Homo sapiens: one gene and its partners. The protein of the gene in region 5 purifies or fractionates together with the protein of the main gene of each other region. This does not show direct contact. Each region holds a gene or a part of one and is shown on either strand. Other genes may lie near its edges. The genes, in order: FAM186B, NNT, STAM, PDHA1, EMC8, P4HA1 and LRPPRC.

The links.
Region 1: the proteins of EMC8 (region 5) and FAM186B purify together in Homo sapiens (affinity purification with mass spectrometry; one large-scale study listed by BioGRID and IntAct). This does not show direct contact.
Region 2: the proteins of EMC8 (region 5) and NNT fractionate together in Homo sapiens (co-fractionation; one large-scale study listed by BioGRID). This does not show direct contact.
Region 3: the proteins of EMC8 (region 5) and STAM purify together in Homo sapiens (affinity purification with mass spectrometry; one large-scale study listed by BioGRID and IntAct). This does not show direct contact.
Region 4: the proteins of EMC8 (region 5) and PDHA1 fractionate together in Homo sapiens (co-fractionation; one large-scale study listed by BioGRID). This does not show direct contact.
Region 6: the proteins of EMC8 (region 5) and P4HA1 fractionate together in Homo sapiens (co-fractionation; one large-scale study listed by BioGRID). This does not show direct contact.
Region 7: the proteins of EMC8 (region 5) and LRPPRC fractionate together in Homo sapiens (co-fractionation; one large-scale study listed by BioGRID). This does not show direct contact.

What each region holds. Positions count from the first base shown.
Region 1 is NC_000012.12:49,591,519-49,596,086, forward strand, and holds part of FAM186B (protein FAM186B), read right to left. Parts: intron 2,941-4,568; exon of another isoform or gene 2,562-2,940; intron 1-2,561.
Region 2 is NC_000005.10:43,651,680-43,655,179, forward strand, and holds part of NNT (NAD(P) transhydrogenase, mitochondrial), read left to right. Parts: intron 1-59; coding exon 60-205; intron 206-1,338; coding exon 1,339-1,534; intron 1,535-3,500. UniProt on the Homo sapiens protein: The transhydrogenation between NADH and NADP is coupled to respiration and ATP hydrolysis and functions as a proton pump across the membrane. May play a role in reactive oxygen species (ROS) detoxification in the adrenal gland.
Region 3 is NC_000010.11:17,685,141-17,689,708, reverse strand, and holds part of STAM (signal transducing adapter molecule 1), read right to left. Parts: intron 1,683-4,568; coding exon 1,536-1,682; intron 1-1,535. UniProt on the Homo sapiens protein: Involved in intracellular signal transduction mediated by cytokines and growth factors. Upon IL-2 and GM-CSL stimulation, it plays a role in signaling leading to DNA synthesis and MYC induction. May also play a role in T-cell development.
Region 4 is NC_000023.11:19,350,314-19,354,310, reverse strand, and holds part of PDHA1 (pyruvate dehydrogenase E1 component subunit alpha, somatic form, mitochondrial isoform 1 precursor), read right to left. Parts: intron 3,052-3,997; coding exon of another isoform or gene 3,031-3,051; coding exon 2,904-3,030; intron 1,230-2,903; coding exon 1,138-1,229; intron 1-1,137. UniProt on the Homo sapiens protein: The pyruvate dehydrogenase complex catalyzes the overall conversion of pyruvate to acetyl-CoA and CO(2), and thereby links the glycolytic pathway to the tricarboxylic cycle.
Region 5 is NC_000016.10:85,782,545-85,786,044, forward strand, and holds part of EMC8 (ER membrane protein complex subunit 8), read right to left. Parts: intron 1-3,500. UniProt on the Homo sapiens protein: Part of the endoplasmic reticulum membrane protein complex (EMC) that enables the energy-independent insertion into endoplasmic reticulum membranes of newly synthesized membrane proteins.
Region 6 is NC_000010.11:73,086,436-73,091,003, forward strand, and holds part of P4HA1 (prolyl 4-hydroxylase subunit alpha-1 isoform 2 precursor), read right to left. Parts: intron 1-4,568. UniProt on the Homo sapiens protein: Catalyzes the post-translational formation of 4-hydroxyproline in -Xaa-Pro-Gly- sequences in collagens and other proteins.
Region 7 is NC_000002.12:43,971,362-43,975,929, forward strand, and holds part of LRPPRC (leucine-rich PPR motif-containing protein, mitochondrial precursor), read right to left. Parts: intron 3,857-4,568; coding exon 3,730-3,856; intron 3,398-3,729; coding exon 3,253-3,397; intron 2,935-3,252; coding exon 2,789-2,934; intron 2,540-2,788; coding exon 2,434-2,539; intron 2,354-2,433; coding exon 2,246-2,353; intron 1-2,245. UniProt on the Homo sapiens protein: May play a role in RNA metabolism in both nuclei and mitochondria. In the nucleus binds to HNRPA1-associated poly(A) mRNAs and is part of nmRNP complexes at late stages of mRNA maturation which are possibly associated with nuclear mRNA export.

The DNA of each region.
Region 1 (4,568 bases), on a different chromosome or scaffold from region 5:
TCACCAGCAGATAAGCAGTGTGAGAAATGTTAAAGGAATCCTTCAGGCAGAAGGAAAATGATACCCAAAATACATTTGGATCTACACAAAAGAGTAAGGAGCACTGGAAATGTTAAGTGTGGGGGTAAATAGATTATTCTTTTCCCTTTGCTTAAGGGAAAAGTAATAACAATGTACAGTTGTCCCTTGCTATCCGTGGGGTATTGGCTCCAGGACTCCTCACAGGCACCAAAATTTGTGGATGCTCACATGCTTATATAAAATGGTGCAGTGTTTGCATATCACCCACCCACATCCTCCTGTATATATTAAATGGTCTCTAGATTACTTATAATACCTAATATAATATAAACACTATCTAAGTAGTTGTTATACTGTTTAGGGAATAACAAGAAAAAAAAGTCTGTTCATGTTCAGCACAGACACAACCATCTATTTTTTTCTCCGAATATTTTTGATCTGTGGTTGATTGAATCCACAGATGCAGAACCCATAGATACAGAGGGCCAACTGCATTAGGGGATTTATAAGTTACATAGAGACAAAATGTATGACAACAGTAGGACAAAGGCCGGGAGGGAAGAAATAGATGTATACTATTGTAAGGTTCTTACACATGAAATAATATTATTTGAAAGTAGACTATGATAAGTTAAAGATTTATATTGTAAACCCTAGAGTGCAGTGGCTCACGCCTGTAATCCCAGCACTTTGGGAGGCCGAGGTGGGCAGAGCACATGATCAGGAGTTCGAGACCAGCCTGACCAACATGGTGAAACCCAGTCTCTACTAAAAATACAAAAATTAGCTGGGCGTGGTGGTGTGCACCTATAATCTCAGCTACTCAGGTGGCTGAGGCAGGAGAATCTCTTGAACCTGGGAGTTGGAGGTTGCAGTGAGCCGAGATCATGCCACTGCACTCTAGCCTGGGCAACAGAGTGAGACTCTGTCTCAAAAAATAATAATAATAAAATAACAAAACAGGCTGGGCATGGTGGCTCAAGCCTGTAATCCCAGCACCTTGGGAGGCTGAGGCGGGTGGATCACATGAGGCCAGGAGTTCGAGACCAGCCTGGCCAACATGGCAAAACCGTGTCTCTACTAAAAATACAAAAAAATTAGCCGGACATGGTGGCGGGTGCCTGTAATCCCAGCTACTCAGGAGGCTGAGGCATGAGAATCGCTTGAATCCAGGAGGCGGAGGTTATGGTGAGCTGAGATCGCACCACCACACTCCAGCTTAGGAGAGAGAGAAAGACTCTCTCAAAAAATAAAAATAAAAAATAACAAAACAAAGAGGTATGGCTAATATGTAATATGTCAGGAGTGGAGATAAGATGAATTTACTTGAAAAGCTCAGTTACTCCACAAGAAGGCAGGAAAAGAGGGAAAAAAACAAAGAACAGATTAGACAAATAGAAATGAAGAGCAAATTATATATTTAAACTCAACTGCGTTGATAATCACATCAAATATAAATAGCCTAAAACCACCAAATAAAAGGCAGAGATTGACAGATTGCATAAAAAAGCAAGACCCAACTATAAGGTATCAATTAAAAACCCAATTTAAATATAGAGACACAGTGCTCACTTCGGTAGCACATATACTAAAGTTGGAATAATACAGAGAAGACTACTAGCATGGCCTCTGTGCAAGGATGACACACAAATTCATGAAGTGTTCCAGTAAATAATATATAGACACAGAGGTTAACAGTGAAAGAGTGGAAGAAGGTATACCATGCAAATAGTAAAAAATATTTAAAAAGCTGCAGTGACTATATCAATACTGATGTACACTGAAGAGCAAGGAATATAATTAGAAACAAACGGCCGGGTGTGGGTGGCTCATGCCTGTAATCCCAGCACTTTGGGAGGCCCAGGTGGGCGGATCCCCTGAGGTTGAGAATTGGAGACCAGCCTGGCCAACATGGCGAACCCCGTCTCTACTAAAAATACAAAAATTAGCCAGGTGTGGTGGCAGGCATTTGTAATCCCAGCTACTCGGGAGGCTGAGGCACAAGAATCACTTGAACCTGAGAGGTGGAGTTTGCAGTGAGCCAACCAAGATGGTGCCACTGCATTGCCTGGGTGACAGCAAGACTCCATCTCAAAAAAAAAAAAAAGAAAAGAAAGAGGGCCATTTCATAAGGATAAAAGTCCAAATTTTGGGCCAGGTAAGGTGATTCATGCTGTAATCCCAATACTTTGGGAGGTCAAGGTGGCAGGATCGCTTAAGGGCAAGATTTGGAGACCAGCCTGGACAACATAGTGAAACTTCATCTCTATAAAAATAAATAGTAAAGGTCAAATTTTCAAGAGTACATAAGCAATCTTAAATGTGTATGCACCTAATTACAGAGCTTCAGAGTATTTGAATAATAAACCTATAAAACTGAAATAAATAGACATAACTGGAGATATACAGCATGCTCATGAATTGAAAGAATAAATATTATTAAGATGCCATTTCTCAGTGCTGGGTAGGTAGGGAATTGGTGGGTTGGAGTTTGTGGTGGGTACTTGGGCCAAAACTAGAAAGACACTCAGAGTAAAAAGGGGCTCACAATGACACCCAGGACATTCAACCCCCAAGGCAGCAGCCAATGATATATATCTGTGGAGGATGTCATGCAGAAAATGAAATAAAATCCAGGGATCCAATCAGATGCAGAGAATGTGTATACAGAATAATATTCAAGAAAAGGACTGAAAGATTGGTGGGTTTTGATGCTCAGTGAAACCTGGGAATTCAGAGGAATGTCTTCACTTACACCTGAATTTCCCTCTTAATGTTTCTCATTGTTGTATAGCTTTCGGTTTTGCATATAGTAGATCCCCCTTATCCTTGGGGGATACATTTCAAGAACCCCAGTGGACGCCTGAAACCTCAGTACCAAACCCTTTATACACTGTTTTTCCTGTATATACTTAACTATGATAAAGTTTAATTTTTAAATTAGGCAGAGTAAGAGATTAATAACAATAACAAAATAGAACAATTTTAACAATATACTATAATAAAAGTTACGTGAATGTGGTTGGTCTCTTGCTCTCAAAATATCTTACACAGGCCGGGTGTGGTGGCTCACGCCTGTAATCCCAACATTTTGGGAGGCCAAGGTGGGTGGATCACCAGAGGTCAGGAGTTTGAGACCAGCCTGGCCAACATGGTGAAAACCCATCTCTACTAAAAATACAAAAATTAGCTGGGCATGGTGGCGCATGCCTGTAATCCCAGATACTTGGGAGGCTGAGGCAAGAGAATCGCCTGAACCCGGGAGGTGGAGGTTGCAGTGAGCCAAGATAGCACAACTGCACTCCAGCCTGGGCAACAGAGCAAGACTCTGTCTCAAAAAAAAAAAAAAGGAATGCCGCAGACTGAAAGATAATATCCACGAAATACAGATCTGGTATAGAACTTGCATCCAGAATATGGGATGAATTTTTACAACCCAATAATATGCTTTGCCAAAGGAGATAAATGGATGACAAATAAGCACATGAAAATATGCTCACATTATTGTTAGGAAAATTCACGTTGTATAAATTAAAGTCTTAGTATAAAATAGTTCTACAATAGCATGAAAACATATAACCTGAGTTTTAAATTATTATTTTGAGTTTTTGGCTAAAGGAGCAGAGGAAATGGAGACGGTCATCCTGTAGATGTCATGAGGCAAGCTGGGATTAAGGTCACCATTGCAGGTCTGGCTGGAAAAGACCCAGTACAGTGTAGCCTTGATGTTTTCATTTGTCCTGATGCCAGTCTTGAAGATGCAAAAAAAGAGGGACCATATGACATAGTAGTTCTACCAGGAGGTAATCTGGGTGCACAGAATTTACCTGAGTCTGCTTCTGTGAAGGAGATACTAAAGGAGCAGGAAAACCAGAAGGGCCTTATAGCCACTATCTGTGCAGGTCCTACTGCTCTGATGGCTCATGAGATCAGTTTTGGAAGTAAAGTTACAACACTCCCGCTTGCTAAGGACAAAATGATGAATGGAAGCCATTACACCTACTCTGAGAATCGTGTGGAAAAGGACGGCCTGAAATTCTTATAAGCCCAGGGCCTAGGACCAGCTTTGAGTTTGTGATTACAATTGTTGAAGCCCTGAGCAGCAAGGAGATGGCAGCTCAAGTGAAGGCTCCACTAGTTCTTAAAGACTAGAGCAGCAAGTGGCTGGGCGCGGTGGTTCACGCCTGTAATCCCAGCATTTTGGGAGGCTGAGGCAGGCGGATCACGAGGTCAGGAGATGGAGACCATCCTGGCTAACACAGTGAAAACCCGTCTCCACTAAAAAATACAACAAAATTACCCGGGCGTGGCGGTGGGTGCCCATAGTCCCAGCTACTCGGGAGGCTGAGGCAGAAAATGGCGTGAACCTGGGAGGCGGAGCTTGCAGTGAGCCGAGATGGCGCCACTGCACTCCAGCCTGGGCGACAGAGCGAGACTCCGTCTCAAAAAAATAAATAAATAAAAATAAGACTAGAGCAGCGAAATGTGACGATCACTTAGAGAAACAGGCCATTAGGAATCCATTCTCACTGTGTTCGCTCTAGACA
Region 2 (3,500 bases), on a different chromosome or scaffold from region 5:
CATGTTGCTCAGTGAGCTCAAAGAGGTACTATGTTTTTTATTTCCTTTGGTTTGCTAAGGTGGCTTTCTGGTGACTCAGAGAATGCTGGACATGTTCAAGCGTCCCACTGACCCCCCAGAATACAACTACCTGTACCTGCTCCCTGCCGGCACCTTTGTTGGTGGATATTTAGCTGCCCTCTACAGTGGTTATAACATTGAACAGGTAAGATGCTCTTTGTAAGTTTTTATATTTACCACAATATTTTCTTCTCTATTAGATTTAACATTGTTAGTTATCCTAATTCAAAGTATCGAGCAAATACAACTCTGTCAAGCAAATACAACAATAACCCTAGAAACATCTTGGTCAAACTGAGCATTCTCTTCCCCTAAGGATCAGGACCCTGGATTCTAGAGACAGATTTTTCTGGTAACTGAGTTTAAATATGGGTTTATGTCTTTGTTTTGATACATTTTTCCACATGTAAGAGGAGTTAAGGTTATCAGTATCTTCATTATGTATCTAGCTAGATTGCGGTGGATTTATAATGAAACAATACAAAATTTGAAAAATTATTATTAAGTACTATTAGTTCTTTTCCTATTCTTCCTCTACAAATCCAGCACATCATCTCTTGCTACTAAGAGATGTTATATATTCATAAAAAAATCCATAAAGAAAAGGATAGTTTAAACTTAATGTTGTATAGAAAAACAGAAATAATCCAGCTGGACTTTGAAAGTTCCAACTTGTAATATAACAGACCTTCAGCTTTGTTCTGAACTCTGTATTTTCTATTTCTTTTCAATGGCTGTCTTTTAGTTTCTTCTATGTTTCCAACCTGCAGTATTTATTGAATGAACAATTTTTTTTTTTTTTTTGAGAAGAGTTGGAGCAGTGAGTCAGAAAGACCTTAGTCTGAATTCCAGATTTCCAATTTATTGATCATTTGCCTTGGAGAAAATATGCAACTTCTTTAAGCTTTGATTCTGTCTTTTGCAAAATGAGGATAATGATTTTTCCCTCTTGTGGATCTCATGACACTGTGACAACACAAATAAAACATGTGGCAAAGCCCCTGGCACTTACCTCAGGGGTTGGCTCTTTTACAGCATTTGGTCAGGTTTAGTATTTTTAGATCCAGTAATGACTCCATTTAAATTTAGGTACTTTTATGTGTATTTGTGCATGATAGCAAATCCAGAAAAAATCAATTTATATAAATGGTATAAGTGCAAATACAATATAAGTATTTAATATGTTAATATTCCTAATTGGCAGGAAAATATATTGAAATCTCTAAGCTAATAGACCAAAGGTTTTAATAATCTCTCTCTCACTTTTCCTTTGAAAAGATCATGTACCTAGGCTCGGGTTTGTGCTGTGTCGGTGCCTTGGCTGGCCTCTCCACCCAGGGAACAGCACGTCTTGGCAATGCACTGGGCATGATTGGGGTTGCTGGAGGACTGGCAGCCACCCTCGGAGTCCTAAAACCGGGCCCAGAATTACTAGCTCAGATGTCTGGAGCGATGGCTTTGGGTGGTACCATTGGTAAGCACTTGTGGGCTTCTGCCTTCATGTGAACTCCAGTTTCTCAATATATATTTCTAAGGTCCATATTGATGAAATAATTAAATTTTGTTCATGGAAGTTGCTTCAGTTAATATTATTTTGGTGAAAATTCATTCCAGTTGGTGTAATTCTCATTCAAATACATTTTAGAACACTGAATAAATGCATCAACTGAGTCAAAATATCCTATACTCAATTCTTATCTTCCTTTACTGACTGTGTCCCGTTAGCTGATAATGGAATGGGGGATTGGAATCCTTATGTATGTACTATACATAAGCTAACTTTTGTTCTGCTGGGTATAAATAACAGCCAAAGATTCTGCTTCATAGACCTGTTAAAAATGAAAAAAAAAAAAAAAAACATGTGCCAGCAGAAAAACTACTGTTTTAATTTTATTCAGTTGTTTGCTGGATTGTTAAATTTTCAGGAATTTTTAGGCTGGGCATGGTGGCTCAGACTGTAATCCCAGCACTTTGGGAGGCTGATGTGGGTGGATCACTTGAGGCCAGGAGTTTGAAACTGGCCTGGCCAACATGGTGAAACCCCGTCGCTATTAAATATACAAAAATTAGTTGGGCATGGTGGCGTACAACTGTAATCCCAGCTTCTTGGGTGGCTGAAGCATGATAATCGCTTGAACCTGGGATGTGGAGGTTGCAGTGAGCTGTGATCATGCTGCTGCACTCCAGCCTGGGTGACAAAGCGAGACTCTGTCTCAAAAAAAAAAAAAAAATTTTTTTTCCAGGAATTTTTAAAGTTGATTGTTAAACACAGCCATTATTAAATACTAAATTACATAAACTTAAATGAATCAGAAACAAAGTTAATAATATTAAAAACTCGTAACTTTCTAATTAATTTACTAGGTTTTATTGTCTATGCTCTTGAGGTTACTTATGTCTATTGTATGTGTATAGAAGAAATACTATGTATCAGTGGGCTGTGGTACATCTCTTTCCAATTCTACATTCAATGACATCACATTGGTAGATTGAAATTTGACTTGGTAGCAGTATTGCAGTGTGGAAATAAGCAAACGCTACAAATCTGGGCTTGATTTATTGTTTTGTTTATTGTCCAGACGTGAGAAAGTGATGGAGAAAATGTTAATGATGCAGCTTAAACTTGAGATGTTTTGACTGTAGCTGTGACATTGTGAATAGCACAAATAATTGAGCAAATAATCTTCCAGTATTTGAAAACTATTATCAGATTCAGCAATAAAGTCATTCATATGGTTGATAAATGAGTGAAGTTCTCGCATACATTCTGTTGTTTTACTTTCGTCTTACTTATTAAAGCAAATAAAAATATCAAACAATGTTCCTGTTGGAAGTATGCTTGTTCATCAGTTGCAAACACTAGGTTGGCTACAGATGTAAGAGTTTAGCAAAGATCCATAAAAACATTCTTTGAAAGTCAATTTGTCTACATGGAATTTTCAGTAAAGAGCACTATTTCTTATTATTTGAAAATTGTGTGCTAGCCACCTTTATATCAGTTAAAGCTCATGTATTTGTATGTGCATGTATTTTTTTCCCCTGGAACTGGTTATTAAATGTTTCCCAGTGGAACACTGGCTTTAGGCCTCCTTTTATACTTCCTCAGGAAAGCTTTGACTCTTTTCTTGATAATCTCTGGGGAAAGGGACTTGAAGGAAAATGTTTGCTCTGTAGGTTCATGGCAGGAAAACCTTTAGACATGATCTTAGCAAATATTCTGAGCCCCACTCCTTCTGTATCACCTACCTATAGCCATGCAGTTCCTTCAGAGGCTCCTAATTTGGGTATTTACTGCCCAGATTTTTGCATTTCTTTACCTTGGGACTTTGCTCCCACCTACCCACCTGAAAACCAAGGTCTTCTTCATGTTCCAGGTGTTTCTTATGTGCTCAGGAGAAAGCACTGGCTATAGAGAAGAGGGCCTGGGTTGCAATGGGGAG
Region 3 (4,568 bases), on a different chromosome or scaffold from region 5:
CTCTACCTATTCTAGGTGGGTTCTCTGCAGTGAGTCTACTCTTTGATAAATAAACATTGTTTCTGTTGTCAAGGAATGTATAATGTCTTGGATTATTCTGTTTAAGATTTTTCCTTAATTATACAGATTCTAGAAACTATACTGAGTAGTAAAAACCAGCTATCAGTTATGAATGAATGAATTTTCAAAGACATAATTTTTTTAAGAAAATTTTAAACCAAAATTTTTTTAAGAAGAAGAATGTCCTTTGCTTCCTTCCTCTCCCAGATACATTTTTGAGTCTTCACATCTCAAGAGTGCTCAGATAAACTGGAAATGCCTTGGGAAGAAAGCACATGTAGGTCTGGATGAATGTAGATAAGCTACATGACTCCCTGAAGTGGTCAAAACATAAGCCCCTCCACACTCACAGATTTCTGTTCATGGTTTCACATCACTCATTACAGTCTGTCCCAGTCAATAAACTGGGGAAAGACAGTGTAGTAAATCAGCACATATTTTAAGCCTCTTGATTAGTTGGGCATCCTAAAGGAAGGTTACCCAAAATAGAAATAGGAATAAAAAAGACATTTCTTGATTTTTTTCTACATGACATAAATTAGAGACTGAATTTTTTTGGCACAAGGGTGGACAGGAGAGCAAAGTTAAGCTATTTAGCCATATCCACTGGGGAAAGGAAGACTTATGTACTGGTCGGCTCTTACTAAGGAGAAAATGCTTCAGGTGCTTCTCTTCCCATTTACCCCTTCTAAAGTCCTCTCATTGTTAATAGAGGAATTCATAAATTTCCTCCACAAAAGAATCTCTCAAGTCATCCCTAACTTTTAAGGATATCCTGATTTCTGAGCTATCATTCTTTGTAGAAAATTATAGCATTAAGAGCATTTAAAAAGACAGTGTTACCTAATTAATAAAGCTATTTTGTGTATATTATTAAAACTGTACTGGCTGGGCCTGGTGGCTCACACCTGTAATCCTAGCACTTTGGGAGGCCGAGGCGGGCAGAACACCTGAGGTCAGGAGTTCGAAACCAGCCTGGCCAACATGGTGAAACCCACCTCTATTTAAAAAAAAAAAAAATTTCCAGGTCTGGCTGCACGTGCATGTAGTCCCAGCTACTCAGGAGGCTGCGGCAGGAGAATCACCTGAACCCAGGAGGCAGAGGTGGCAGTGAGCCGAGATCACGCTACTGCACTCTACCCAGGGCGACAAACAAAGACTCCGTCTCAAAAACAAACAAACAAAAACTATACCAAAAAATTTCAAAAACTGCAAAATGTTAAACCAATTCGTTTATAAAGAAGTAGAGAGGTTAGAGCACATTAATATTCCATTATAATACTTTTCTGGCACCTCTGAATGCCAGAAAACTAGTATTACTAACTAGCAATACAACTAGTTACTAACACAATTAGCTAACGAAAATTCCTCTGAAGTAGTAAAAATTACCTGGGAATGAAGAAAAAAATTCAAATAAATATAGCTATTTAAGAGAAACAAACTGTAGCACACACACAACTTCATTCCCAAAATACCTGAGAGCCAATAGCTGGGAACGTAACTCCTTGTTCCTTAAGGTTCTTAATCATTGCTGATATTAGACTAAGCTGTGGATCATTCTTAAATTCATCTGTCCATTCAACCATAAGAGCCTTTAATTTTTCACATACTTTAGGATGACCCTGTAAAATAGAAAAAGAAATAAAAGAGCACCAATTTCCTAGCCAATGATTTAATACAGACATTTTAAATAGTAAAGTTATTAAGTGATGTTTTTTGAATCACAAGTTATGCATAGCTATAGACAAGAAAATATAGTTATTCGAAATAAAACTAATGTTCACACTATGAAAAAACCCATCATATATATCTCACTTCAAATTAAAGCATTAAATAGGTAATAAGATTTTGGAGATCTGAAAGGACTTTTCAGAATATTTTGCAACGAAGCAAGGTTTGTACATCAGTAAGACAAGGAAAAGTGTCTGCTTTTTGCAAAGCAATAAAAAAGTGGGAAGGAGAGAATAAATGATACAGTTCCTTTATTCCAAATTCCTGACTTCTTAATGTTCATGACTATGCATTTTTTCCATGATGCTTAATTATCTGGGGCCTAGTTTGAGGTACACTGCATGTTAATCATTTTGAAAATTTAATTTCTTCAAAATAACATAACTTTTTTTCCTTTCTTTTCTTTTCTTTTTTTTTGGTTTGTTTTTTGAGACAGAGTCTCACCCTGTGGCAGAAGCCGGACTGCAGTGGCTCGATCTCAGCACACTGCAACCTCCGCCTCCCAGAGGGGGGTGGGGGATGCGGTTCAAGCGATTCTCTTGTGTCAACCTCCCGAGTAGGATTACAGGCGCGCACCACCATGCCCAGCTAATTTTTGTACTTTTAGCAGACGCGGGGTTTTACCATGTTGGCCAGGCTGGTCTTGAACTCCTGACCCCAACTGATTCGCCCGCCTCAGCCTCCCAAAGTGCTGCGATTACAGGCATGAGCCACCGTGCCCAGCCCAAAATAACATAACTCTTTATGGTTGATGTATAACAAAGATTCAAGTTAGTCTAAGGCAGGTGTGCAGGGCATTATTCTTCCGTATTAAAGAAAGAGATAAATGTAGTGAGTTTTCAAAATAAATTATTTTACTCATTGCTTATTAAGGGAAAAAACCTGGCCAGTTCATTAAAATACTGATGTATCTTCATAGCGGCAATAATTTGAAGTCTTACTATTTGATGTAATAGATATAAAGAAACCTTCACAGATACCAGAGAAGAAATAACTCCTCTATGAAATGTCATGAATGTATTTCAAACCAATGCTTACTAAATAATTGGCTAAAGCTTTTAAAAATGGAGAAGGTTAGACTTTTAGATTACTCTATTAGAAGAAAAAAAATTCTTTCTAAGTGCACATGTAATCTGTATTTTGGTCAAGGAGCATATAATGGATTTGCAAACGCTTTATTGAGACTATACATGAACTTAATTTGTTTAATAAAAGGAAATTTTTTAAAAGGGCAGGATGTTGGCTGGGCGCGGTGGCTCATGCCTGTAATCCCAGCACTTTGGAAGGCCGAGGTGGGCAATCACAAGGTCAGGAGTTCGAGACTGGCCTGACCATCCCCATGGTGAAACCCCATCTCTGCTAACACTACAAAAACCAGCCAGGCGTGGTGGCGCATGCCTGTATTCCCAGCTACTCAGGAGGCTGAGGCAGGAGAATCACTTGAACCCGGGAGGCAGAGGCTATAGTCAGCTGAGATCACGCCACTGTACTCCAGCCTGGGTGACAAAGAGAGACACTGTCTCAAAAAAAAAAAAAAAAGGCGGGATGTTATTAAGTACAAAACCAATATGTTCACTGTAAAACATTCAGAAAATAAAGAGAAGTCCTCTTGCCTATAGGAAGTCGTTTTTGGAAATGGCTGCTTGCACTATTATACATAGGTAAGTATACCACATTTTTCACCTACATTACAAAAAACATGGTATTAGAATCTCTTCATAAACAGTTGTAATCTCGATGGACATTCAGGACATTAAAAGACAATGTTTATTAATTAGTAGAAAATAAATATTAACTGCATAAAGCAGGAAAGGGAAAGAATTATCATTTAACCATGATGTTCGAAAAGTACAGAATTTTACATTCTTACTATATTTCTATACTGCTATTTTTCTACTGTAACCTGGAACTATTCATTTTTCCCAAAAACATGAGGCATTTTCCCTTTTAACATACAAAAACTTTTTCTTGATTTACAGTACTCCCCCTAAAAAGGCCAAAAATAATTACTTTTAGAATGCACAAATTTTTACTGGGGAAACTCACATATTACTAATTGAAAATTGAAAAATTTCTTGAACTGTGTGACTAGAATTCTACAGTTGAGTGGGCAGTTGTAGGGTCCCCAGTTCTCCCTGCTTTCTTTCTGTGTCCCAATAGAAAAACAGAGTGCCTTGTCCCGCTCTGTGACCTAGCCAGCTGCATGTTTTCCACCATAGGTTTGGACCCAAACTGGGGCCTTGAACATTCTCAGGCACTGATAAAGTTGTTCAGGTTGTGGCCCAAAACACTAAAAGATCAAGTATGTTGCTAAACACACAGAAACCAGCCCCAACCCTGAGCCAAATTCCTTAAACCCTCCTATAAACTGCAGCCCTCCTGTGTAAGTTCCCCTAATAAATCCTTTAGACTGATCACCCTGGCATTTAGTGCCTCTTTTTTTGGACTCTCATCTGGCCCTATCTGGAACAGTTTGGGGCAGTCCCTTGTGGAAACTCCCCCGCCACCACTTTTGAGGCAACTCCAGCTGTGGGTTCAGCCAGTAAGAATAGCAGTATAGTATTAAAATCCTGTGATGGCCAGGAAGCAGCCTTATTGATAAAGATAAAAACTCAACGGTGCCATAGACTTTTTGCAGTGTTTCTGAAAGGTTTTCCATTAGGAAAATACCTTGTGCCTACAAAAACAGTATGTAAAATAGACTGATATTATTTAATTAGATATAGAAATACCTGTTTTCTTATCAGATGAAAGTATGATGGAAAAGAACAGGTTAA
Region 4 (3,997 bases), on a different chromosome or scaffold from region 5:
AAGTAATATATAAATACTATGTTCTATTTTAACCAGTAAGCACTAACATTTCTGCATTCAAGAGTTAAAAAATAAAACCTGGCCGGGCGTGGTGGCTCACGCCTGTAATCCCAGCACTTTGGGCAGATCACGAGGTCCACAGATCGAGACCATCCTGGACAAGATGGTGAAACCCCGTCTCTACTAAAAATACAAAAAATGGTTGGGCATGGTGGCACGTAACTATATTCCCAGCTACTCGGGAGGCTGAGGCAGGAGAATTGCTTGAACCCGGGGGTGGAGGTTGCAGTGAGCTGAGATTACACCACTGCTCCAGCCTGGGCGGCTGAGCAAGACTCCATTTCAAAAGGAAAAATAAAACCTAGGTTTAAAAAAAAACAACACATAATAGAATCTTAATATATTAGAAAGGAAAAGAAACAGTCCGGATATAATTTTGTGCTGTTAATTCTTCATCATTCACTAACTGATGAGAACAAGGACCCCAAAATGAAGTTGACAAGATAAAGCAATTAATGTACTGAAATATAAATAGGAAGGGGAAGGTATGGCTCCACTGCTAGAGGTTCCTGCTTACTTATAAAACAGCAGACACCTAAAAGGAAACATTATAAATCACCATCCAAATCTACTCATCTCTCAAACGGTAGGATATGAAGCACTAGGTCTTTAAAAGCAAACCAAGCCCCCAAAATAGTCACGCGTCACTTAACAACAGGGATATATTCTCAGAATTGCATCACTAGGCGATTTTGTCATGTGAACACCATACTGTAATGCACGAACCTAGATGGTACAGCCCACTGCACACCTAGGCTGTATAGTAGAGCCTACTGCTCCTAGGCTACAACCCTGCACAGCATGTGACTCTACTGAATCCTGTAGGCAAAATATTTGTGTACCTAAACGTAGAAAAGGTAATGTGTTGTGCCACTACAACATCACTAGGCGACAGGAATTTTTCAGCTCCATTATAATCTTATGGGTCCAACATCATATATGCGACATTGACCAAAGCGTCACTGTGCAGCACATGGCTGTACTACTTCAGGAAAAGTTGTCTGGGGCTGTGAAAGTTTTTGAAGACAAAGTCCAGGGCCAAATCTAAAGCAGCACACAATCCTCGTCCTTGACTACCTGCGCTCCCACGATGCCATTGCCCCCGTAGAAGTTCTTGGCATACATGTGCATCGATCCTCCTTTCCCTTTAGCACAACCTCCTTTTCGTCCTGGAAATGGCAGAACATACACATGTGCAGAACAAACCAACTCTACAAAGCAAACCAAACCGCACCCCAAATATGTACTCTGAGGCTCAACCATTAGAACACAGAGGCCAGTTCAGTCGTCTAAGTACCTGTCCCTCCAGGCAAACACATGTTTCTCCTTGTCCTTTCACTAGTTCCATGTGCTTCAACCTTTCCAGCTTTTCCTACTCTCTAGTCACTTAGTTTCCTTCAGATGTTCCATCCAGATGATACCCTGGACTTTTCTGGGTTTTCTGGCCAGTTACAAACATCTTAGGACCTCTCCTATACTAGTACACTAAATATATTCAATCCTTGAACAGGGTTTGAACTGCACAGGTACACTTATACACAGATTTTTTTTCAGCCACACATGTATTGAAAATAGAATATTCTCAGGATGCAAACCCGAAGATATGGAAGGCTGACTTTGGGACTTGAGTATTTGAGGATTTTTGTATACTCGAGGGTCCTAGAACCAATCCCCTGGATATATAGAGGGACAACCATAGTTCAAGAGTCAAGGAGGGCCGGGCACGGCGGCTCACGCCTGTAATCCTAACATTTTGGGAGGCCGAAGAGGGTGGATCACCTGAGGTCAAGAGTTCAAGACCAGCCTGGCCAACATGGTGAAACCTGGTCTCTACTAAAAATACAGAAATTAGCCAGGTGTGGTGGTTGGGCACCTATAATCCTAGCTACTCAGGAGGCTGAGGCAGGAGAATTGCTTGAACCCGGGGGGCGGAGGCTGCAGTGAGCCAAAATCATACCACTTCACTCCAGCCACTCCAGCCTGGGTGAAAGAGTGAAACTCTGTCTCAAAAAAAAAAAAAAAAAAGGAGGAGGAGGAGGACCGGGCACAGTGGCTCACGCCTGTAATCCTAGCATTTTGGGAGGCTGAGGCAGGCCACTGCACTCCAGCCTGGGCAACAAAGCGAGACTCTGTCTCAAAAAAACAAAACAGGCCAGGTGCGGTGGCTCACGCCTGTAACCCCAGCACACTTTGGGAGGCCAAGGCAGGTGGATCACCTGAGGTCAGGAGTTGGAGACCAGCCTGGCCAACATGTTGAAACCCCATCTCTACTAAAAATACAAAAATTAGCCAGGTGTGGTGGTGCATGCCTGTAGTCCCAGCTACTCAGGAGGTGGAGGCATGAGAATCACTTGAACCCGGGAGGTGGAGGTTGCAGTGAGCCGTGATCACACCACTGCACACCAGCCTGGACAACGGAGTGAGACACAGTCTCAAAAAAAAAAAAAAAAAAAAACCACCAAAACAAACAAATAGTCACGGGGGACAAAGAAAAGGGGAATATTAAGAAGATTTCTAGAATTTACATTGCATACCATGGAGTGCTTCAACCGAACTTACTTTCTATGACTGCTAGACTTCTTCTGGCATGCTTGAATGATAACCAAACCTACTGTGATTTTATAGCACCAACCTGTTTTAAACTTTTACCTGAGGGGCCAGAGAACTTCACAAATGGTCAGTTAACTCAAGAGCACAACAGAAGTACCAGAGCACCAAAGGAGAGAGGGTTAAAAAAAGAAACTTAAAATTTTTAACAAATATTAACTCATAATAGCATCTTAATGACAGATATTTAAAAACTTAATCCACTCATTTCCCCTTTCTGTAAATCAACAGCAAACCTGTAAGCTCTGCGAGAATTTCTCGGACGGAAAGGCCCCGGGTGAAAGTAAAGCCGTGAGCCCGGTAGGCTGTGATGAGATGGTCTGTGGGGTTGATGCCGGCCTCCAGGCCCACACAGCAAGCTTCCTGTGTTAGAGGAAGGAGAAACTATGAGGCAATATGATACATGTTTCTAAATAAAAACGTTTCCTAGACCACAGTGAAATATGTGGGCTAGTAGAACCTGTCATTAATAACCAGAGAAAGTAGCTATTTTCCACCAAAATACAGAGTGGAAGGCCCAAACCAGAAGCAATAAACTGGCAACCCACACATGTGCCACTTCCTTCCTTTCTCCTGTATGATGACCTAAAAGAAAAGCCTACATCAGATGTCAACATTAAAACACTGGGGAATTTCACATGAAAATCCAGACTTCCGCCTTCTCTTAGACATGGAAAACAGGAAACATTACCCCTGATTTCCACATGGCACCAACTGGCTGGAACCAAGTCATGGCATTCCTCTGGGTAGGGCATGCTGGTGCCAGTTCAGCATGAGTCCCTGTCACCATTTTCTGTTTTGTATACCTAGCCTTCTTCACTCATTTATTCTACCTGGCTGGCCCTTGTAGGTATTTGACTCTAACCCTTGACCTAAGCCCACAAAACAAAAAACAAACTAATCCTTTCTCTCCAAATTATATACAGTACAGGCGATCATAGTGCCAGAAAGTTTTAAAATAGTAAAACTCTAAGAACAGGTACAGAAAACTGGCAATGTTATGTGTGAATGAATTCTTTAGCCTAAGCTTCATAGCAGGTTTTGGCATTCTACTTTTTAATTCTAAAATACTGGCTTCAGCCAGGCACAGTGGCTCACGCCTGTAATCCTAGCACCTTGGGAGGCCAAGGTGGGCGGACCACTTGAGCCCAGAAGTTTGAGACTAGCCTGGGCAACATAGTGAAACCCCGTATCTCCAAAAAATACAAAAATTAGCTGGGTGTGTTGGTGTGCACCTGTGGTCCCACATACTCGGGAGGCTGAGGTGGGAGGATTGCTTGAGCCCAGTGGACAGAGGCTGCAGTGAGCCAAGATCACACTGTACTCTAAC
Region 5 (3,500 bases):
AAACAAAAGCATTGAACCGGTTCCCTCTAGCTGCTGTCCAGCTTCCCTCCTCCCTTCCATGACTGTTTCTTCAACTTCTTTAACAAGCCGCTAGTCTTGCTCCATGTCCTCACCACAGCTCTGTGCAATCTGCCATCTAACCCATTCCCTTGCAGAGCAGCACTCCGGAAGTCTCCTGACCACTGCCTGATGGCCCCAAGACTGCTACCCCCTCAAAAGCCTCCCAGCGGGAACCCACCACTCTCAGGCAGGCCAGTCCATTTCCAGCCTCTCCGACCTGAGGCCACCTTTCCCTCTGCTCTTCCCCACCCTGCAGGCCACAGGTCCTTTCTCTGCCCTCCTTTCCTGCATTCTCCCTGTCATTTATTTCCTTCAGTCTCTCACCTTAGGCAGGGGCTTCTAAAACTGCTTCCTAACCGGTCTCATAATTTCTACGGTCACTCGCTCGCTCTCTTTTTTAAAGAGACAGGGTCGGCTGGGTGCAGTGGCTCACGCCTGTAATCCCTGCACTTTCGGAGGCCGAGGCAGGTGGATCACCTGATGAGGTCAGGAGTTCGAGACCAGCCTGGCCAACATGGTGAAACCCTGTCTCTACTAAAAATATAAAAACTAGCTGGGTGTGGTGATGCACATCTGTAGACCCAGCTACTCCGGAGGCTGAGGCAGGAGAATCGCTTGAACCCGGGAGGCGGGGGTGGCAGTGAGCTGAGATCATGCCACTGTACTCCAGCCTGGGCAACAGTGAGACTCCACGTCAAAAAAAAAAGAGACAGAGTCTCGCTTCGTTGCCCAGGCTGGAGCATGGTGGCTATTCACAGGTGTGATCATGGCCACAAACTCCGGGTCTCAATCAATCCTTCCTGCTCAGCCTCACAAGCAGCTGGGACCACAGGCACGTGCTACGAAGCTCAGCTTAGGCTCTTCTTATCCGATGTAACCTGAAAATTCTCCTGAACTAAATTTTCCTAAAACAGAACTTCCATCACGTCCCCTGGTGCTCACAGCCCCACAGACTACTGCTCACCACTGCCTGCAAGATGAAGGCTGCTATTCTCAGGCTGGCAGAGGCAGGCCTTCGTTACGGTGAACTGAGCTACCGTGTGCAGCCACAGGGGCAATGCTGTGTCTTCAATGTCAGGAAATCTGCCTACATGTCATCTGCCTCACATGCCCGTCTTGTTTCACTCACACTGTCCCGTCTGGCCCTCCACACCAAGGCCTCCTTACTGAATTGCTTCCCCTCTTTCAGTGCCCAGAAGACATGCCACCCTCACCACAAAGCCCTGCTAAACCCTGGATGAGACCCCCTGCCCTGCTGGAGTTCTGAGGATTTATTTCTAAGAGGCTCTAACACAGAGTCCATGGCACGTGCTGCTTTCCTTCTGTGCATCCTGTCTGCCCTGCACAATCAAGGCTTTCAGCTTTTTGTGGCAGGGACCAAGCCATCCATCTTTCTTTTTTTTTCTTTTTTTGAGATGGAGTCTCACTCTGTCGCCTAGGCTGGAGTGCAGTGGCGCGATCTCGGCTCACTGCAAGCTCTGCCTCCCGGGTTCACGCCATTCTCCTGCCTCAGCCTCCCAAGTAGCTGGGACTACAGGCGCCCGCCACCACGCCCAGCTAATTTTTTGTATTTTTAGTAGAGATGGGGTTTCACCGTGTTAGCCAGGATGGTCTCGATCTCCTGACCTCGTGATCTGCCCGCGATGGCCTCCCAAAGTGCTGGGAATATAGGCGTGAGCCACCGCGCCTGGCCCCATCTTTCTTTTAACAGCCATAAAAATACATGCATTATTGTGAGTTATTTAACAAAGCACACTATATACAATTACAATCCTTCCCTTGTGATTAGGCTAAAAAAAATTAATAATGTTTTTAAAAAACAAATTATTTTATATGATTATTGTATTTTCGTTTTCAAAATTGACAAAGTGATGTACTGATTATAAATCTGCAGTATTAAGAAAAATATGACTTAAAAATGTGACTGTGTTAAGAAAAATATGACTTAAGAGGGAAGGGGAGGTTTTCAGGTAGAAGCCAATCGTACTGAAGAAAGCAGTGCGATGGTGGCTCCTAGCGCAGAGGGAAGGCAGTGCTTCACTGCACTGACCAGGACTCGGTGGGCGCCAGGTCCCCACAGCACTAACGGCAAGTGGTGAAGAGTGGGTACAGAGCCCTCAGGAGGCCTGCCCATGTACCCACCTCTGCCTGCTCCTGCATTTGCTGAGGAACTTGGAAAGCAAAAGGCAGGGCCGCTTGCCATGAAGAGCTTGCAAAGCCCTTACCCTCCTACTTAACACTGATCATGCTGGTTGTTGATTTTTATTGGGGAGAGGGTAAGGAAACACTCATTAAAAAGAAAAACTACCATTGCAGATGCTCAAGAACTCTTAACATCTGTCTTTCTATTCACTGATTTTTGAGATGGGGTCTTGCTCTGTTGCCCAGGCTGGAGTACAGTGGCGAGATCATGGCTCACTGCAGCCCCAACTGCCCAGGCTCAAGTGATCTCCCACCCCAGCCTCCCTTGTAGCTGGGACCACAGGCGTAGGCCACCATGTCCAGCTAATTTTTGTATTTTTTTGTAGAGATGAGGTCTTGCTATGTTGCCCAGACTGGTCTTGAACACCTGGCTCAAGAAATCCTCCTGCCTTGGCCTCTGAAAGTGCTGGGATTACAGGTGTGATCCAACATGGCTGGCCTAAAATTTATTATTTTAAAAGAAGTCTAAAAATTTGTAGTTGGCCGGGTGTGGTGGCTCATGCCTGTAATCCCAGCACTTTGGGAGGTTAAGGTGGGTGGATCACTTGAGGTCAGCAGTTCGAGACCAGCCTGGCCAACACGGTGAAACCCCGTCTCTACTAAAAATACAAAAATTAGCCAGGTGTGGTGGCAGGTGCCTGTAATTCCAGCTACTCAGGAGCCTGAGACAGCAGAATACTTTGAACCCAGGAGGTGGAGGTTGCATTGAGGCGAGATCGTGCCACTGCACTCCAGCCTGGGTGACAGAGTGAGACTCTGTCTGCTCTGCCACCGCCCCGCCAAAAAAAAAATGTGTAGTTAATGAACTGTCAAAGTATTTGAAACAGCTGCCAACTTTGCATTTCTCTGTCTTAGGCACTGAATCTCCAATACTGATCCACTTGATCCTGAATGAAGACTGCCACGCTGTGGTTCCTGCTAGTCAGGAACTCCTTGTTCCTAGGAAGAGCCAGCTGCCAACTGAAACTGCAGGCACCCTGAAGGCAGACCACTCTGCTCACCCTCAACAGCACCATGTCGGGCCAGCGTGTAGGTGCCATCTTACAATGTGTATCTAAAAGCTTCCTCCTGAGTGTCTGCCTCAGGCCAGGGCTCTCTGCCGGGCACCGAAACCTACTCATATCAAATGCTAACTATGAAGCAAAACACTGGCCAACAATGAATCATATAATAAAACTTGATGGAATGACCTAAAGTTTAGGAAATTCATAAAAGTTATAAACACTACGTTAGAACAG
Region 6 (4,568 bases), on a different chromosome or scaffold from region 5:
TGGTTGCCCAGGGTTAGGCAAGGGACAATGGGAGTGACTGCTACTGGCTCTGGGGTTTCTTTTTGGAGTGATATAAATGTTTTAAAATTGATTGTTGTGGTAACACAACTGTGAATATATTAAAAGCCACTGAAATGTATACTTTAAAGGGAAAATTGCATGGTACGTGAATTATTACTCAATAAAACTGTTTTAAAAAAATTAAAAAGAAAACAGGCTGGGAGCGGTGGCTCACGCCTGTAATCCCGGCACTTTGGGAGGCTGAGGCAGGCAGATCACTTGAGGTCAGGAGTTCAAGACCAACCTGGCCAACATGGTGAAACCCCATCTCTACTAAAAATACAAAAATTAGCCAGGCGTGGTGGCACATGCCTGTAAATCCCAGCTACTTGGGAGGCTGAGGCAGGAGAATTGCTTGAACCCAGGAGGTGGAGGTTGCAGTGAGCCGAGATTGTGTCACTGCACTCCAGCCTGGGTAAAAGAGTGAGAGTGCATCTCAAAAAAAAAAAAAAAAAAAAAAAAAAGAGGAAATCAACCTAAGTTCTCATTTCACTTGGGTAAATACCTAGGAGCGGGAATGTTGGGTCATATGACAAGTATATATTTACCTTCATAAAAAACTGCCAAACGTTTCTCCAAAGTAGCTACACTATTTGCCCTTCCAACAGCAAAGGATGAAAGTTTCCATTGCTCCCATTCTTACCAGCATTTTGTATTGCCGTTTTTTCCTTAGTTTCTCTTAATATCTTAATTTTCACAATAGACATATAGTACTATCTCATTATGGGTTTAATTTGCAATTCCATAATTACTAATGATGTTTAATGCCTTTATTTTTTTTTTTTTTTTTTGAGACAGAGTCTCACTCTGTCGCCCAGGCTGGAATGCAGTGGCACAATCTTGTCTCACTGCAACCTCCACCTCCTGGGTTCAAGTGATTCTCGTGTCTCAGCCTCCTAGGTAGCTGGGATTACAGGCACGTGCCACCACACCTGACCAATTTTGTATTTTTAGTAGAGACGGTTTCGCTATGTTGGCCGGGCTAGTCTTGAACTCCTGACCTCAGATGGTCCACCCACCTCAGCTTCCCAAAGTGCTGGGATTACAGGCATGACCCACCATGCCTGGCCTATGTTTAACACCTTTTGGGGTGTTTATCTGCTGTTCATACACCTTCCTGCATAGTGTCTACTCAAATCTTTTGCTCTTTTTAATTAGGTTGTTTACTTTTTTTAATAGAGATGGGGTCTTGCTATGTTGCCCAAGCTGGTCTCAAACTCCTGGATTTTCAAGCAATCCTCCAGTCTTGGCCTCCCAAAGTGCTGGGATTACAGACGTGAGCCACCATGCCCAGCTTTGAGTTCCTTATACAGTCTATTTTTTGTCAGATATGTGATGGGGAATATTTTCTCCCAGTCTGTGAAGTCTTTTTATTCTCTCAACAGTGTGTTTGGAAGAGCAGAATTTCTTAATTTTGATGAAGTCTAATTTATCAGTTTGTTCATTTATGAATCATGTTCTTGGCATCATGTCCAAGAAATCTCTGCCTGACCCATGGTCAAAAATATTTTTGTCCTATGTTTTCTTTCAAATATTTTATAGCTGTACATTTTACTTCACAATCTATGAACATTTTTTAAAATAGAAACGGGTCTCACTCTTGCCAAGGCTAGTCTCAAACTCCTGGGCTCAAGCAATCCTCCTGCCTCAACCTCCCAAAATGCTGGGATTACAAACGTGTGCGACCAGACCCGGCCTACGAACCATTTTGAACTAATTTTTGCATACAGTGTCAAGTACAGATTGAGGCTCTAATAAAAAGATTTCATTTTGATGTTTGAGTGCAGATTGCCTTCAGGTCCCACACCTCTCTCCCTTTTGTCCCACATCTGGGTAAGTCTGTAAGAAAGCCCAGGTACTCCCTCCCTTGGTATTGGTGTAAAGTTGAAACCATATAAATACCACACTTGGGGACCAGTATTCCCTCCCTTGGTACTGGTGTGAAGTTGAAACCATGTAAATACCACACATGGGGACCATCAAACAAGTTCCACCTTCTGGTCAATAAAAACCAAAGCCACCCACCCTGTTTCACTCTTGCTTCATCCTGGACTAAACCTAAGTCCTTGACCTTGAGGAGTCCTTTTGCTGTTTACTGTGTGATTAAACTTTATTTCATATCCACTGGTGGATTCATGTCACTTGTCCCAATATTCACATAAATTCCTGGGCAAGGGACTGCCCAGTGTCCAACAGTGGATACTTGGTGCCCAAATAAAACAAAGATTGTTTTTTCTTTGCATATGAATATTCAACTGTTCCAGACTATCCTCTGTTGAACTGCCCTTAAACTTTTTCAAAATGAATTGACAATTTTTGTGTGACTAAATTCTCTATTTTGTTCAATTGATCTGTATGTCTATCTTTTCTCCAATACCACAGTCTTGGTTATTGCAGCTTTAAACTAAGTTGAAATCAGGTAGTATGAATCTTCCAACTTTGTTATTCTTTTTCAAAATTGTTTTAGCTTTTCTAGTTCCTTTGGTTTTCCATATTAATTTTAGAATCGGCTCATTAATTTCTATAAGAAATCCTCTGAGATTTGGACTAGAAATGTGCTGAATCTATAAATCAGTTTGAGAAGAGTAGGTATCTTAATACTGAGTCTTCTAATCCATGAACATGATATAATCAGTGTTTCATAATTTTCAACATACAAATATTACACACCATTTGAAAAGTTAATACTTAAGTATTTCATGGTTTTTAGTGCTAATGAGATGGGAATTTTTCACTTTAGTTTCTAATTGTTCATTATTAGTATATAGAAATACAATTTACTGTTGTATATTGACCTTCTAAGCTACAACTCTGCTGAATTAACCTATTCACTAGAGCTTTTTTGAAGAGTCACAGACATGTTGTCTGTGAATAGAAACTGCTCTTTGAAGCACACTGTTTAAAGAATGAAGACAAGCCAACAACTGGGAAAAAATATTTCCCTATCACATCTAGCTATTGCACTCCTAGGCATTAATATAAGAGAAAAGAAAGCATATCTCTCTCCAACAACTTGTACATGAATGCTCATAGCAGCTTTATTCATAATAGTCAAAAAGTGAAAACAATCCAAATGTCCATCAAAGGGTAAATGGGTTAAAAAAAATCATGGTATATTCATAAAATAAAATACTATTCAACAATAAAAAACTATGAACACATAACAACATGGATGAATCTCAAATTATGCTGAGTGTAAGGAGATTCCCCGTGCTAAAAAAAAAAAAAAAAAGCGTATATACAATTCCATTTTTATAAAATTCTAGAAAATAAAAACTAATCTTAAGCAACAGAAAGGAAACAATGGTTTCCTAGGGATACAGAGAGGGTAGTAAGGAGCAAAAGAAGGGATTACAAAAAGTCATAAGGATACTGCCGATGCCCCGGCTAGAGTGCAGTAGCGTGATCTTGGCTCACCGCAGCCTTAATCTCCAGGCTTTGGGTGAGTCTCCCACCTCAGTCTCCCAAGTAGCGGGGACTGCAGGCACACAACACCACACCTGGCTTTTTAATTTTTTTGTAGAGACAGGGTTTTACCATGTTGCGCAGGCTGGTCTTGAACTTCTGGGCTCAAGCAGTCCTCCTGCCTCGGCCCCCCAGAGTGTTGGGATTACAGGTGTGAGCCACTGCGCCTGGCCAAGTATACTCTTTTTTGAGACAGAGACTCATTTCGGTCACCAGGCTGGAGTACAGTAGCACAATCACAGTTCATTGAAGACTCAACCTCCCCAGCTCAAGCAATCCTCCTGCCTCGGCCTCCCAAGTAGCTAGGATTACAGGCAGGCACCATCACACCCAGCTAATGTTATTTTATTTTGTGTAGAGATGAAGTCTTTCTATGTCGCCCAGGCTGGTCTGGAACTCCTGGGCTCAAGCAGTCCTCCTGCCTCGGCCACCCAAAGGGTTGGGATTACAGGCCTAAGCCACTGTGCCTGACCTTGAGGATACTCTTGAAGGTGATGGATATGTTCCTTATCTTGATTGTACTGATATTTTTTTAAGTAGATATTTTTGTCAAATTTATCAAATTGTACACTGTAAATATATGCAATTTGTCCTGTCAATTTTGCTCAATAAAGTCGTTAAAATATATCAGTTTATTCAATTTATTAGTAATCACCCTTATATCAAAGATTAGTGTTTTACTTATTACTATCACTCTACTTGGTGGCAATGGTCACTATTCACTATTTTCAAATACAATATTAAGGTTTTTTAAATTCAGGCATAGTAAATTGAGGTCTATTTTCAAAATATCTTTGAGGTTAAAGGAAGTAACTGCAGGCCAGGTGCGGTGGCTCATGCCTGTAATCCCAGCACTTTGGGAGGCCGAGGCTGATGGATCACCCCCGGTCAGGAGTTCGAGACCCGCCCGGCCAAGATGGTGACACCCTGTCTCTACTAAAAATACAAAAAAGTAGTCGGGCGTGGTGGCGGGTGCCTGTAATCCCAGCTACTCGGGAGGCTGAGGCAGAGAATTGCTTGAACCCAGGAGGCAGAGGTTGCCG
Region 7 (4,568 bases), on a different chromosome or scaffold from region 5:
AGTAATTATAAATATCTTTCTTGGAGGTTGGTGATGGCTAAATTTGCAGCCAGAAAAATTCAACAGAAACTTGATTATTATACAGGGCACATGCCCTCAGGACCTCCTGAGGCTGTGTCACAGTAAAAAAAAAAAAAAAAAAAGAAAAAAATATATATATATGTTTTTTAAAAGAAAAAAAAAAGACACTTGATTATCCTATTGTTGAAAACTCTTGGTTCCACTTTGTCTGATCCCCAAATATCTTTGATTTTCTGAAGAGATGTATTTATTCCTCATGAAACACAGCACATCCTCCATCACTGCAGTCACTTTCTTCTGTGATTTCTACCATTTTATACGTGACTTTCACTGGACAAAGAACAAGTTCATTGCACTAATAAGAATGTTACTTTCTTACCTTACACTAAAGAAACTATAAAGAATACATACAGCCATTTCTCTGTTATATAAAAGAAGACTGTAGAATATATACTTTACTATCTTTCAGGACCTACTGCAAAGAAGAATATATTGTTTTTAAAAATTGTAAAACTGACAATCTTTTGCACTCTCAGAACACACAATATAAAAGCATAAACTTTTATATTTTTTCAGACAAAACCTTCATCGATTAAAAAATTCACTCTCTTTTAGCAATGTTATTCGTGTAAAAACTGGCAACTAATTTTTAAACAGCAGCTAAGAATTTTTAGAAAATAAACACAGTATAGTACTTACAAAAGCTGAATATGGAAGGGTTATAGTATAAAAAAGGATATTTTAAAAGGAGGACAGAAACCCTCTATTCTAATCCCAGCCTAATCACACCTAGACGTGGAAGCTAAGGTCAGTCACTGAATGTCTGTGTGGCCCTCAGTTCCTTCATTCACGTAATGTGAGCTTTCAGTACAGCACTTTTAAAATCTAAATTCTGAGATTCTAAGACAAGATGGATTTGAGATAAAGCCCATTTTCTACTATTTCAACTGCTACAACCATAGAAAGAAATTACCTAACTCTTTTATGTTTACTAAGTAGTAAAAATGTAGTAATCAATTCAACTGTGACATGGTTGTGGAAAGCAGATTAACCTGATGAACAAACATTTCAACTGGTACCAAAAAAATTTTCATACTTGTGTAAAGGTGGACAATACTAACATGCCTGAAGAGTTTGATGGAATGATGTAAACTTTCTGTGGTTCCAAAACACTGGGTTATAGGTTACCTTTTGGAGCTTTCAGACTGGAGGATATACAAAGAGTTAATCAAACTAGCATATTGTTTTCACAAAGATTTTTCTAAAAAGGATTTAGAGACTTTTATAGCCAGAAACAATTAGGGAATACTTGTTTCACTATTTCCTTTAAACCAGAAGACGGCTGTACATTTAAAATAAAATTGCAATATGAAAGTCTGCTAAAAGCACTTTTTTTGTTGTTTGTGCATTCTGTTTGTCACCCAATGTCACACTAACAATTCTGCATCTCATTCCAAAGCACATTATACTTCGAGATAAAATGAAAAAGACCATTTTTTGTTTCCCCAAGGGGAAAGTACTTCTGTTAAAAGCATCTTTTTATGAGACTACTCTTTCTGAATTACCAATAATGCAAACCGAAGAATTAGATACTGTACTCTAAAATTTAATATTTGTTCAATTCTTATTCATATCCTATAGACATCCCATGTGTACAAGGGAAAAGTATGATAAATGCTTAAACGTACTTAAGAACCTGAAAGATTGAACATTTTTGTCCTTCAATCAGCAGGCTGTCAGGTCATGAGTACTCATTTCACAATAAAAGTTTTCCTGCCTTTCCTATTATTCTAACTAAGCTCAGTTAAAAAGAAATAGATTGGCCCACAAAGAAAATGACCATACTTTTTGTTTTCATGAACCTAATTGTATATACAACTTTATCTTTATTAAAGGTAGACAATCTGATTTCAAACACTATATATAAAATCAAGAACTAAAGAGTTTTTTTAAGAACTTAAAAAAACTACGTTCATTAAGTTTGAATATCAAGATCAGAGATGAAATAAGAAATGAAATTAATGAAATTCAGATGAAAGAAATCCATCATGTTTTGTTTTTTAAAATGCTTACACATAATACTTCATGATGACTTAAAACAATTCCATTATCTCATAATACTCAGGAATAAGTATGCTTTTCCAAAGAATCCAATTAGATGTGCGTGCAAACTGTCATACTGGCTCTGGGAACCATTACAAATCGGTAAAAGGCAAAATCTAACCTTGAACATTTTTTTCCTTCCGACGTCCAACTAGCAATGGCCAGAAATAGTGAGGTCTGATAGGAAAACCTTCCTCCTTCACAGCCTTCATTAAGGCTTTTGCCAAATCTGAAAGAGATATCATAAAAGATCACAAAGCTACCTCAGCAAAACTTCCTTACTTGGCTTTAACTTTAAGAATGTAGTACCAGTTTTATTGGCGAGTAAAGCACAATGGAGGGTGAACTGCAGAGGAAAGGAGTGCATCTGGACTTCCTTTAACTTCTTACAGTAGTCTGTTAGCTTCTCCACAGGCTGTGGGAAAAAAGTCACCACATTAGCTGGATTGGCAAACACCCCACCGTTTGACCTGCTGCAAATATTCTACCACTTCTGAGATGAGCATTTTAAACCCCGCATCCTCTTTCTACCCAAAAATCTTGCAACACAAGAACATTGTTATGATGTTTACAACTGGTCTAATCTTATAAATGTTCCTATACTTTAAAGAATCTTATTTCACTGCCAATTACATTGTCTACAAAGTAAAAGTGGACAGAATACCGTATTCATAGTCACACAGTGTTGTAAAAAGAAACTGCCAAAGACACTTGGGCCATCTTCCTTTGATACGGGGCATGCTAGTAAAATTTGCAACGCTACATCTTCCAATTTTTCAGTGACTAAAAGTAAAATGAGGTTCATTGCATCTGGGAAGAAAACAAAGACATCTTTTGTTAATAAACTGAACAATATTTTTACACTGCAACCAATGTTCCAATACTGAAGACAAAATAAGAATTGCAAACATCAAAAGCATATAACTGCCTAAATAACAATAAAACACCTGCAAATCAAATCATCCCCATGTGTTCATTAACTCATGTTTTTGGGCTTATTTAACTGACTTTAAGAGTTCTATGTTCAACTCCCACAATGCCCATTGTTAGAAAATGTCCTTTCCATCATGTAAGAATAGCAATTCAGATTTTTATAAAAATCATGTAAATAGATTTTTTTAAAACTACCTGGAATATATCTTCTTTCACATGTAACTTTTTCCAAAATTTCTGAGACATACTGAGGATACCCAGCTTTACTGAAGCTAAAAATAATTTGCAGTAAATCACGGTCCATAAGGTGAAGCTCGGACTTCTCCACCTTCTCCAGAGTCTATAGAGAGTTCCAGAAATTAGAAGACAAAGTTAGAGTGTTTTTATTTAAGTATTAAAGCTAAATAAAATATCCAGATTCAAAAAACTAGGGAAAAATACCACCTAAAGGTTTACGACTTCTTTTAAAAAACAGGAAATACTCTACTTCAACAGTAACTGTTACATACCAGCACCGAGATACTAAACTATAATAATTCTCCATAAATACTACTTTCTGCAAGGAAACATCTTTGAAAACAGGTATAAACTTCACTTTCCTGCCTCATGTAAAACATAACACAAATTTTTACAAATGATTTTAAAGTATGTTTATTTAGACATAAGTCATACCTGCTTAACATGGTCAATGTCGCCCTTCTCAGCATATGCATTCAATAATGCGAGGTATGTGTCTGGACCAGGCTCAATTCCGGCATCTCTCATCACTGTGAGAATGTTTTCTGCATTCTCCATATCACTACAAGTTAATTCAAAAAACAGATTATTATGCTTTTGCCAAATTTAATATAGTTATTCAAACTAAAACATATGCTTATTAAAATAAAAAATGCTAAGTACCATTTGGAATTATGATGTCAGAAAAGAACTAATGTATATTAAACTGGATATATGTTTCTGAAATAATAAAGATCATAAACATCTGATCCCCCATTAAAAAATAATAATAATTACATAGACATTAAATAACATACCCTCTTAATATTATGTAGGTTATGACTCAGACTTAACTTTCGAGGTAAGAATAACATTTAGTAAATTACTCTTCAAAAATAAAAATATTTTCCAGAGCAGTTACTTCAGATCAGATCAAGCCCAGTTTCTTTTTTCTTTTTTTTTTTTGAGATGGAGTCTTGCTCTGTCTCCCAGGCTGGAGTGCAATGGTGTAATCTCGGCTCACTGCAACCTCTGCCTCCCGGGTTCAAGCAACGCTCCTGCCTCAGACTCCCAAGTAGCTGGGATTACAGGCACCTGCCATCATGCCCGGCTAAATTTTTATATTTTTGTAGAGACCGGGTTTCACCATGTTGGCCAAGCTGGTCTTGAACTCCTGACCTCAGGTGATCTGCCCACCTCAGCCTCCCAAAGTGCTGGGATTACAGGCATGAGCCACCACGCCCGGCTTCAAGCCCAATTTCTAAAAATTCAAATAAAAGAAAGATTTGTGGAAC